Regions from separate parts of the Homo sapiens genome. Here region 1 is linked to region 2. A link means that fine-mapping ties the variant in region 2 to the expression of a gene that starts in the linked region. Tissue or cell type: whole blood. Region 2 holds a variant in brackets; the other region holds the start of a gene. All regions are shown on one strand. Distances are from middle to middle.

The links. PIP is the estimated chance that this variant, and not a neighbour inherited with it, causes the effect.
Region 1: it holds the start of ZNF717, and the variant in region 2 is fine-mapped to the expression of ZNF717 in whole blood (TOPMed, PIP above 0.99).

The regions. Positions count from the first base shown.
Region 1 is chr3:75,784,087-75,786,772 of GRCh38, forward strand. ZNF717 (zinc finger protein 717) reads right to left here and starts at 1,463. Exons shown (of 5, transcript NM_001290208.3): 1 at 1,298-1,463. RefSeq lists an enhancer at 1,576-1,725.
Region 2 is chr3:75,408,623-75,411,308 of GRCh38, forward strand. No RefSeq gene overlaps it. Among named protein-coding and RNA genes, the nearest start is that of LINC02018, 25 kb to the right of the region's middle. The variant C/T (reference allele first, on the strand shown) is at 1,236.

The sequences.
Region 1 (2,686 bases), 380 kb after region 2:
ACCCTGGTGGAGACACAGGGCCTAGCCAAGAGTCACCACAAACCGCCAGATTGTGAAGGAAACTATCTTAAACCAACCAGGCTCAGTCAACCCACCATGTGACCAAGGCCTCTTTTGTGATCCAGGCAACATAAATATATCAACTACCCAGCTGAACCCACCACACCAAAATGCAGATCCACAGAACTTCAAACAAATAAAATGGTGGTTGTTTTTTATAAGCCAGTAAGGTTTAATTAGTTCCTTAAACAGCAAGTATTAACTGTTACACCTAAGTGAACAGAATTCAATATGTTTTTAACAAAATTACGTAGGGGGAGAAAGTCTTAAATTACAAATCAAATACAATCGATAGAACTTCACAATCTAATGCTAAAGCTAAATTTGGTGATGGACTAGGTTTAATATATCTCAAACGCTGGAAACAACGAGGAAAGGTTGAAGGAATGGGACTGTGTTTGGAGAGTATTTTAATCTTCTCAGGTATGACAGGTCACTCCTGTACCCCAGACCACACTTTCAGGCCCCTTCAAATAAGGAATATTTCCTAGGTCCTTGCCTGTTCTTCTCAGCCGAATTCACCTCAACCTTCTGAAAGTTCGTCCAAACCTACCACTGTCACCTAGTCTTTGCAAATCTTGTGCATTCTAGGGAGTAGAATTAATATTTCCCGAGCGAGGAAAACTGGGATCTTCACCTGTGACCTTTTATCCTCCTCTGAAGCACCAGTGGGAGGTTAGACCAGAGGGCTGTTCTTTCAAGTGCGCTTCTTATTCATAGGGAACCCTCCCTTTCAAACCTTATAACACACGGTTAAGACTGAAGTACCCTTAAGGCTGAAGACCATCATCCAGTACCCCATCTCCCTCGCGGCATCAGTGAGTTCTTCCCTGGAAACTAGGTCTCGTATAAACTTCTGTAAACGCAACCCAGGAGGACTAGGCAGGTCACACAGTGAAGGAGGGAACCAGAAACTTCACTTGCTAAAGAGACACCGGGAAACCCAACTAATACAAACGCCCAGTTTAAGACTCGAGGCGCACGCGTTTCGCACTACTCCTCTGGGAATGGGGAACGTCTCCCGAGAACTGTGTGTTCGCACTGGGACAGATGGGCAAACTGAGCGTCATGCGGGTTGGTAACCGGCTCCCTCAGCGGCAGGACAGGAGCGCGGCCTGCAGACTCCGGGCCCAGGGCCACCGGCCTCGCCTACCCGCTCCTGCGCCTCTAGAACCCGCTTCACTGCCGGGACCCCACGCCTGTCCTCCCAGCCCCCGCCAGGGTCCGCGGCCTGCACCTGCACTTCAGGCCCTGCCCGCCCGCGATGCGCCCACGCGTCTGCTCCCACAACTGGGGAACACTGGTCCGGCCCCCCGGGATCCCCCGGGCCCACGGGTTCCTCTTCGCCCTCGCACCGACCCGCAGGGACATAGAACCAAGCCCCAGGCTGGCCCAGCTACAAGACCGCCTCTGGGTGCCGCACTTCCGGAGGAAAATGGCGGAGTGGGCGGGGCGGCGCATGCGCAGAGAGAAAAGCTGGTTCCCAAGGTCCTTGATGGTAACATCATTGGAAGGTGACACTACATTTCCCATGAGGCTCTGCGGTCCCCGGTTAGGAACCCAAGCCGGACATTCTGTTTTGCCCAGCAGTGAGTCCAGTTACCCAGAGACCCGGACTTAATGGATCAGGACTGGTCCCTACCCAGGTGACACAGATGTGGCATTCTGGTTCTTTATTAAATCCTGGTTTCACAGCCTGGCACATTGTGAAAATAATGGAGAAATTTCAATAGAGGCCAATTGGTCTATGCTATTAATGAGTAACTTTTTTTTTTTTTTTTTTTTTGAGACGGAGTCTCACTCTGTCACCCAGGCTGGAGAGCAATGGTGCGATCTCGGCTCACTGCAACCTCCGCTTCCCGGGTTCAAGCGATTCTCCTGCCTCAGCCTCCTGAGTAGCTGGGATTACAGGTGCGCGCCACCACACTCACCTAATTTTTGTATTTTTAGTAGAGACGGGGTTTCACCATGTTGGTCAGGCTGGTCTCGAACTCTTGACCTCGTGATCCGCCCTCCTCGGCCTCCCAAAGTGCTGGGATTACAGGCGTGAGCCACTGCGCCCAGCCCTCAAGTCTATTTTTTATAAATGCATTCGAAAGCATGAAAAAAATCATGTCTCTATTTTACTTTAAAATTTTAAAAACACAACTAATGAATATGGTAATTCTCTTCCAATCCGTTATCTTTTCTCTCACTAAACTAATTTATAAGCCTTCAATTTACACAGTTACAAAAAATGCTCTAGTGCATATACTGGGATAAAATAACAGGGTCATAAGACAGGTGCACTCCATAATCTTTGTGACAACTTACACTTCCAGTGTCTGATAAATATTTGCCCATAAACTCCCACGTTTCATCCATCCACCAATCAATCAAATCTAGCTATCTTTATTTATTTATTGTGAGAAAGACCTGAACTTTGCCTTTCCTTCCCTGATTTCTGCCACAAACTAGGCAAGGATTTCTGCCTAGGGGTTTCTCAGAGCTCCGGCCACCACCGAGGTTCCTAACAGGGAAACGCAAGCTTGAATGCTCAGGGTTGATGTGGGAGTGCGTGTGAAACGGGGTTGGGGTGAAAGGGCAGTGAAGTTTGTAGGTGGGCAGATGAGGGTGTGAAGGGCTT
Region 2 (2,686 bases):
GCTGGGAGGGACATATTCTCCATTCAATAACCCCTCTATGGAGCCTCTAATGCAGCATATGGAAAAAGCCTGTCACCGTCTCCCAGCAAAAACTCCCGGCCCATAAAATGATCTTGACACCTGAAATACCCATGCTGTCTCAAGTGACATCATAGAAACACTCTAATGAGGCTGGGCACAGTGGCTCACACCTGTAATCCCAGCACTTTGAGAGGCCGAGGTGGGTGGATCACCTGAGATCAGGAGTTTGAGACCAGCCTGACCAACATGGTGAAACTCCGTCTCTACTAAAAATACAAAAAATTAGCCAGGCATAGTGGTGGATGCCTGTAATCCCAGCTACTTGGGAGGCTGAGGGAGGAGAATAGCTTGAACCTGGGAGGCAGAAGTTGCAGTGAGCCAAGATCGCACCATTGCACTCCAGCCTGGGCGACAAGAGCAAGACTCCATCTCAGAAAAAAAAAAAAAAAAAAAAAGAAAGAAACATAATAAAACAGAAATGGTTTATACAGCATCATGCTATGTGGGGAATGCAGGGATGAGATATTCCCAAGGAGGGAACCTCTTTTCTCCTACGACTGACTGGAACAGTGAGGAGCTGCTGGATTCTATCAGCAGTTCGACAATGCCCTATATAACCAGCTCTCAACTCACTCACCCCCAGTTGTTTGGTCTATGGATGATAATTTCGAGGTGAACAAACAACATCCTGTTTGGAGGGCTGCTACTCTGGCTAAAGATGATAAAAATCAGTCTGCTCAGTGAGTTGAATTGCATGCTGTTTTCCTTGCTGCTGATTTATACTAGAATGATATCAATAACTGATTTTCAAAGAATCATGGTGTGTGTTCCAAAGTGTTCTACAGGAGTGTGATATTGTGAAATATATATTTGATCAGTCGAACAGTGGTAGAAGCCCCGTGTTTGGGTTTTGACTGACTCCTGGGCAGTGACCAGTGTCTTGGCTGTACACTCAGGCAAGAGGGCAATAGCCACCTGGCTTATTAACGGGATATCCATATGGGGCACAGCCCTGTGGAGATGGGAAAGATGTCTTGAAGTAGAACAGGTTCATGCCCATCAGAAAAACTCCCTTCCAGGCTCAGGAGGTGGCTGGGGTCACCAAGTGAGATTTTTCTGTGTGCTCCTGTGAGGTGGTCACCTGGGTCCATGAAATGAGTGAACAAGGTGGCTCTGCAGCAGTGCAGAGATGGGCTAAATCTAGCCATGACCCT[C/T]GGGCTCAAAATGCCAATAACTATTCTGTCACTGGGTGTGGTGGCTCAAGCCTGTAGTTCCAGCACTTTGGGAGGCCGAGGTGAATGGATCACCTGAGGTTGGGAGTTCGAGACCAGCCTGACCAACATGGAGAAACCCCATCTCTACTAAAAATACAAAATTACTGGGGCGTGGTGGTGCATGCCTATAATCCCAGCTGAGGCAGGAGAATTGCTTGTACCCAGGAGGTGGAGGTTGCGGTGAGCCGAGATGACGCCATTGGACTCCGGCCTGGGCAACAAGAGTGGAACAACCTCTCAAAAAAAAAAAAAAAAGGAAAAAAAAAAGAACTGTTCTGTCTGCCAGCAAGAGAAAAGAGACTGCCCATGGCTGTGAGGCACATTCCCTGGTGGGAAAGCTCTTAGCATAACTGGCAAGTGAGATGGATGCTGGCAGCCCTGGGGGGCTACATCTAGGTCTTGACAGGAATAGACGCTGTCTCTGGACTGGGCTTTGTTTGCATGGTAGAAGATGCAAATACTCAGAGTGCCATTAAAAAAAAAAAAAAAGGCCAGGCACGGTGGCTCATGCCTGTAATCCCAACACTTTGGGAGGCTGAGGTGGGCAGATCACCTGAGGTCAGGGGTTCAAGACCAACCTGGCAAACATGGTGACACCCCGTCACTACAAAAATACAAAAAAATTAGCCAATCCCAGCTACTCGGGAGGCTGAGGCAGAAGAATCACCTGAACCCAGGAGGCGGAGGTTGCAGTGAGCCGAGATCGTGCCATTGCACTCCAGCCTGGGAGACAGAGGGAGACTCTGTCTCAAAAAAAAAAAAAGAAAAGAAAAAAAAGAAAAGAAAAAGGGGAAAAAAAAAACAGAACAGGAGATACTGCATTAATCTTGATGGCCAACGTCATTGCTTCAGAAAAAGGAGCACTCTATACAGCCCATAATGTCCAACAATGGGCAGACAGGCATCCACTTCAGAGTCATAATTTGGCACAGAAGTGGAAGAGGCAATTCAAACGCTGGTTGTCTAAAACGGGGGAGGTGAAAGCAGGAGGGCTGGTGATAGAGTTTGGATCTGTATCTCCGCCCAATTGTGTGTTGAATTGTAATCCCCAGTGTTGGAACTGGGGCCTGATGGGAGGCAGTTGGATCATGAGGGCAGGTTTCCCATGAATTGTTTAGCACTATTCTCTTTGGTATTGTACTCACGATAGTGAGTGTGTTCTCATGAGATCTGGTCGTTTAAAAGTATGTGGGGCCGGGCGTGGTGGCTCACGCCTGTAATCCCAGCACTTTGAAAGGCTGAGGTGGGTGGATCACCTGAGGTCAGGAGTTCAAGACCAGCCTGGCCAACATGGCAAAACCCAGTCTCTCATAAAAATACAAAAAGTAGCCAGCATGACGGCGGGCGCCTGTAATCCCAGCTACTTGGGAGGGTGAGGCAGGAGAATCACT